Linked DNA regions of Homo sapiens. The protein of the gene in region 1 interacts with the protein of each later gene in a pairwise test. Each region holds a gene or a part of one and is shown on either strand. Other genes may lie near its edges.

Region 1 (3,940 bases):
CCTGGATTCAAGGTGTAAGGAACTGAAGTGAAGCTTCTGCCTTGGGACCCAGGCTGTCCAAGGTGGGGGTGAGTGTCTGTGAAACCCTCTTGGTCTGGGACTTCTGTATTCACAGAGGCTCAGCCCCAGAGAGGGAAACTTTCAATTCTGTTGGTCAAGAGAGGCCTCACTTGAGGGACCAGGCCCAGTGGCTCACACCTGTAATCCCAACACTTTGGAAACCTGAGGCAGAAGAACTGCTTGAGGCCAGGAGTTCGAGACCAGCCTGGTCAACATAGTGAGACCCTGTCTCTCTCAAAAAAAAAAAACAAACAAACAAAAAAAAAAAAACGAGGGACCTTATTTTAAGATGTCCGAGGCAGCTTGGAGTAGTGGAGAACAGGTAGCTGGTGGTTTCTCTGTAGCAGTGAGAGGACAGGATGGGTAGATTCGGCTCAGGAAGGCTCTGAAGTGGTAGTAGATACACCAGCCTCCCCCATCCTCTGACTGAGGAGCAAGTGCATGGCGGGTGCATGACAGCACAGAGCTGCACTTGCCCTCATGGTGAGGAAAGACATACAGAAAGGCTAGAGCTAGTACTTTGCCCATGTGGGGCTGCTTTCTTTTTGAATAGAGGTGAAAGTCACACAATGTACAGTTTGTTATTTTAAAGTGTACAGATCAGTGACATGTATTCAGAATGTTGTGCAACCACCACTTGTCTTTAGTTTCAAAACTTTTTGGGTGCCTGTTTTTGGTTCTGGGTGAGATGCACTCACCAGGGTGATAAAGACCCTGCCTGGCTTGTTCATGGCGTCTCCAGGACCTAGTATGGTGCCTGACCGTGGCACTCATAGGGTGTTTGTTGAGTGAATGAATGATGCCTTTTCAGCTGAACTCGAGCTAGAAGACTCCAGGGCTCACTCCACTGTGCCCATTCCACAGATCCGGCCCCGAGGTGTGCCCGTTCACCAGGCAGAGGTGTCATCCGAATTCAGGCTCCTGGGGCCCGGGAGGGTCCGACTCTACGGACCCAGGTCGCTGTGGCCCATCGCTTTCGATTTGACTTGGTTTCTGTCGCCACTCGCGGAAGGCGCGCCCCCCGCCCTCGCTCGGCGGCCCGCCCCGCCCCGCCCCTGCTCTTCCTCCGGGGCCGCTGGCACTGCGGCCGCTCCGCAGGCAGAGAAGCCGGGAGCGGGCGAGGCGGCGGCGGCAGCAGCGATGGTGAGGGCCCAGGCGGGGCCGGCCAGCCCTGCGACGGGCAGAGGGCGAGTGGCGAGGGTGGGAGAGAGGAGTCCAAAGTCCGCGGGCTGGGGCCTCCCCTGGGGCCCACGAGGGCCAGACCTGAGGCGGTGACCACTGCTGGAGCAGGACGGGGCGGACCCTCCACTCCCTGCGCGCCGCATGGGAGAGAAATGCGTGAGCCCCGTCCTGGCTGCACCGCGCAGAGCGAGCGGGACTCGGGCTCCCCATTCTCCTGAAGCAAAGCGGTTAAGAGCACCGACTTTGGAGTCGGACTCCGGGCTGGGATCCCAGCTCTGTGACCCGGGACAAGTCACTTAACCTCCCTGAGCCTCCTTTTCCGCGTCTGTGAAGTGGGGTCAGTAATACCTGCCTTGTTGGGTCCTTGCGAGGTTAAAGGAGCCACAGTGGCAGAGACCCGCCTGGCACTCAGAACCCACTGCTAAGAAGTGGTAGGAAATGTAACGACCTCGTCAGCCCTTTCCGCAGCTGTGAGGAGCCAAGCCTGGCTCAGGAGTTGGAAACTTGAGCAGATGGGGTGGCAGAGGCCATTCCAGCCCCATGGCAGGGTGTTGGAGGGCGAACTCCTCCCCTAGAGAAAGAGAAAGGGAGATGTTTACTCTGAAAGTTCCACTGAAGTTATCAGTGTATGGCACAGGCCTGACTCCCTGCTAACCTCTACCTAGTGACACATTCCTGAGTTGAGTCATCCCCACTCCTGCTGCAGATCCTGGCCTTTGTCCTCACTTGCCATCTCCAAGGCAAAGATGTCAGGAACAGCTGGTGCCAGTTTCTCCCTTTCCCTAGGGCTCCTGGGAAAATGGACTGGGCAGGAAGTAGGCTTGGTGCTTTAAGATTTTGCCTTGGAGAAACTGACAGAGGTGTGATGGATGTGGCCTGGCTAGGGGTCAATGCCTGGATGGCCTTATCTCCAGGGAACTTGGAGGCAGGAAGAGGAAGTGGGGCAGGAAGGTAGCACTGAGCTCTGAGGCCAGGCCAGGAAGCTGAGGAAGGCTCTGAGAATAGGGCAGAGCCCAGAGCCCACTTAAGGGTGTGCAGGGCAAGGGGTCAGGCAGGGGTAGGGGTGGGCTTCAGCCGGCCCTTAGCTCTTTGGGAGAAGCTCCTGAAGTGAAGGCTGAAGGCAGGATATTTTATTGGGGGAGGAGGATACTGGGAAACCTGGGGATTCTCACGGGTACATTTGAGGCAGTCTGTGGAGGAGAGGCTGGGGAGGTCGCTCCTCCACCCATCCATCTCCTAGCCTCTTCCTGTTTCTTCTTTCACTCTTGCCCCTTTAGCGCTTTCCTTCCTTCCACCCATCCCCTTTCCCTCCCTGGTCCTTCTTCCTTTCACTTTTCTTTTCTTCTCTATGACTCATTCAACCAACAAGGATTTCTTGGAAATGTCCTTCATGCCAGCATGGTGACAAGTATAGGGGACAGAGCAGGAACAAAGCAGTGATGGGAAAGATGGAAATGGAATGAATAATTACTTGAATTCATTAATCTTGTAGATGATCCTCTCTCCAAAGAATGTGTGTGTTGAGCCACAGGCCTCCCTCATATGCACACAAATTAGGTTGGTAGCATCAACCAGATTCTTTAGCCAATCAGCTAAAGTGTCTGACCTCCTTGTACCTGCATCTAATTTAGCACACGGGTTACAAATGTGGTGCCTGGAGTCTGTGTTGGTTCAACTCCCAGATCTTCTACTCACTGGCTCTGTGATCTTGGACAGGTGATTTAACACCTCTGAGCCAAAGTTTCCTATAAAACTGGGAAAAGGCCAGGCGCAGTGGCTCACACCTGTAATCCCAGCACTTTGGGAGGCCGAGGCGGGCAGATCACGAGTTCAACAGTTCAAGACCAGCCTGGCAAACATGGTGAAATCCCGTCTCTACTAAAAATATAAAAAAATAGCCGGGTGTGGTGGCACACGCCTGTAGTCCCAACTATGCGGGAGGTTGAGGCAGGAGAATCGCTTGAACCTGGGAGGCGGAGGTTGCAGTGAGCTGAGATCGCGCCATTGCACTCCAGCCTGGGTGACAGAGTAAGGCTGTCTCAGAACAAAAACAAACAAACAAACAAACAAAATAACTGGGTTAATAATATGGCCTTCAATGGGTTGTTGGGTGAGGATTAAATGAGACAGAGCAAATGAACAGCAAGCAGCATAGTGCCTACCTCAGAGTATGTGCCCATTGGATGGTGGCTGTTATTCTTGCTCAAGATGTAAAACCTCAACAGCCTGCCGTGCCAGATGAAAATAAACTAGATGCAGCCGGGCGCGGTGGCTCACGCCTGTAATCCCAGCACTTTGAGAGAGAGGCCAAGCCAGGTGGATCACGAGGTCAGGAGTTCGAGACCACCCTGGCTAACACGGTGAAACCCTGTCTCTACTAAAAATACAAAAAATTAGCTGGGCGTGGTGGCAGGCGCCTGTAGTCCCAGCTACCCTGGAGGCTGAGGCAGGAGAATGGCGTGAACCCAGGAGGCAGAGCTTGCAGTGAGTGGAGATCACGCCACTGCACTCCAGCCTGGGCGACAGAGTGAGACACCATCTCAAAAAAAAAAAGAAAGAAAATAAACTAGATGCTAGTTACCAAGTTACCAAAAGCCCATTTAAAGTTCTGAGCCACAGGTTAGAAACAATTATGTGTACTATGTGTACAAGTTTGCCATAGGGAAGAGCTTGCTTGGCTGTGCATTTTATAAAACGA
Region 2 (2,713 bases), on another chromosome or scaffold:
ATCTCAAATGAAGAGTGGAGAAGAGTACTAAAAAGCCTTAGAGCATCTCAAGAAATAAAAACAGGTCAACATCAAGAGAAAAAGAGCTGGAGATTGGAGAGCCCTTGAGAAGAAAGGCAGCTGTGCTCTGTCTCCAGCTCCATAGGACAATGATGACACATCTTTGCCTCTCTCCATCTCTCTGCTCACTTTCCCTGTGTCTCTCTGACGGGTTACTTCTACTGCACACATCCCCCAATGGCCACCCATCCCTGGTTTGTTCCCCAGTTTTTTCAGTTCCAGAACCCTGTAGACACAGTCTCTGTGCCTCTTAGTTCAACTATTCAAGAGAGGGATTCTGTTGGCAGCGGGCACTTTCACCTGCCTATAGGAAGCAGTGTTTGAGTTGGGTGCCTATCTCTAGTCCAATCAGCTATGACCAAACAGAAAACATCTTGAGCTACCAAATGGCTGCCAAAGACACTTCTCCAACAGGGGCTGATGGGAGAAGACACAGGATGACCATAGTTCCTAGAGTTAGAAGTCTAACCTGGCCAGAAACATAGCTTCTGACAAAACACAGCCTCTACAAAAGGCATATTATGTTCTGATGACTTCTACATAAGGGCATATTAGCCCAACTATTAGGGTTCCCAGTGGCTGCATTTTGAAAACTGTGCATTCACCTGTTGCAATGCAGATGAATAGCACTGGCATGATTTTATTTATATTGGTCATCAATGAAGTATCAATGCCCTCAAAGCAGTCCCTCATGTCCCCAGGGCTGTAGGTGATTGATAAGGGCTGATTAAAATGCACAGGCACCTGATGTGACCAAGGCTTATCTGTGTTCTTTCTCTCCAGTTTGGATTGCCGCCCTGCACTTGGCCCTTCTGTCTCTCAGCTCTCACCTTCCTGCTCCTGACGACCAATAACCCCGCCATCTACAAGCTCCCGCTCAGCAAAGTCACCTACCCAGAGGCCAACCGCATCTACTACCTGTCCCAGGAGAGAAACAGAAGGGCATCAATCATAACAAAGTATCAGGCCTACGATGTCTCCTAAGTTTCCCTGTCTAAAACACATCAGTGTAAATTCAGGCTTCAGCACGCCGTCCAGATCCCCAGGATAAGAGACCACTTAGCCTTCCCTTTGGTCTGTTCTGTGACTCTCTCCCCAAACACAAAGAAGCGTGTATGTAGTCACCATTCCAGAACCTCTCTTTTCTAAGATGCACAACACTTATCAAAGATATGTTTAGTTTAGACTTTATACCCTTAGCTTTCCCATAAGAGCTCCCTTTGTGGGGAACTTGCCCTCTTCTGCGAAATAAGCCTCATCCTTAAAGAGAAGTCACCGGCCGGGCACGGTGGCTCACGCCTGTAATCCCAGCACTTTGGGAGGCCGAGGCGGGTGGATCACGAGGTCAGGAGATCGAGACCATCCTGGCGAACATGGTGAGACCCCATCTCTACTAAAAATACAAAAAATTAGCCAGGCATGGTGGCGGGCACCTGTAGTCCCAGCTACTTGGGAGGCTGAGGCAGGAGAATGGCGTGAACCCGGGAGGTGGAGCTTGCAGTGAGCCAAGATCACGCCACTGCACTCCAGCCTGGGCAACGGAGTGAGACTCTGTCTCAAAAAAAAAAAAAAGGGGAAGTCACCAAGAAAGGGATAGAGGTCAGTGACATGGTCATCACACAACTCGGTCATTTAATATGGCAAAACACAATACCAAGAACTGTGCATTAGCCCGGAAGGCAAGAGGGTTGGTTCTGCCCCAGCTCTGCTGCTAATGAGCCCCTACCAGGTTGAGCAAGTCTTTCCCCACTCTCCACCTCCATTTCTTAATCAGTTTCATGACAGGGAAGGATTTGAAAGTCCTTTCCACCTCAGAAGTGTTGATTATTCTCTCTCTCCTATAATCTGATGAAATCAGCATGACAACAAGTAATTTAAGTAAAGGACAGAAGGGTTACCCAAGAAGAGGCAGGAAAATGTTAACGTTCTATAAAGTTTTATTCTTGAGTCATAGGAAAATGCTCTCCAGACGTGGGGTTAGGAACCTAAATTCACTGAAAATGCCAATGTGCTTTCCTTTACATTACAGAAATATTTCTGGAAGTGTCAGATGAAAACTGATCTTTATCAACACTCAAATCATATTATAAACAAATGTGTTTCCCTTTGTAATATTCATAATCATACTGTCATTAAACTGTTTAAGTTTGCAAGTCGGCATCAGGGTTTTCTTAAAACGGGGCTCACCTAGAGGTTCATACATTGCTCACTTGAGGGGTTTTCCATGGTCAAGCATGTGCCTGAAAAGAGACAAGGATGGGCTCAAAATCATCAGAACAGGGGTTGATTTGCTTATGGAGCGAATTACACAGAAATGACCTTGGACTTGGTTTTCTGTTTGAGTTGAAGCACAGATTGTTAATAACACATCTCACTATTTAGGGTAGAGTCTTTTAGCTTTGTGCCCCCAAATTACAAATCAAGCCAGTCTTGAGTGGCCAGTAACCCTTGTTCAGTCACTCTGGTTATAGTTTCAAGCTCCTAAGCCACAAACCTTCTTTGTGGAACTCCATGTGGCCTGACCTTCCCACGCCTTCTCCAGAGGGGAATGAACCTCTCATAGCACCATAGCAGTGCCTCCCACCACCCTCCAAGCACACATGCACTCCCAGTTTAGTGTCATGGGGATGAGGACATAAGAGGGAATGTGGGG

Evidence for each region.
Region 2: the proteins of VAMP5 (region 1) and SLC14A2 interact in binary tests that used the Homo sapiens proteins (3 or more experiments, as listed by UniProt).

The regions. Positions count from the first base shown.
Region 1 is NC_000002.12:85,583,291-85,587,230, forward strand, and holds the start of VAMP5 (vesicle-associated membrane protein 5), read left to right. Parts: upstream 1-1,140; 5' UTR 1,141-1,200; coding exon 1,201-1,203; intron 1,204-3,940. UniProt on the Homo sapiens protein: May participate in trafficking events that are associated with myogenesis, such as myoblast fusion and/or GLUT4 trafficking.
Region 2 is NC_000018.10:45,681,476-45,684,188, forward strand, and holds the end of SLC14A2 (urea transporter 2), read left to right. Parts: intron 1-843; coding exon 844-1,044; 3' UTR 1,045-2,213; downstream 2,214-2,713.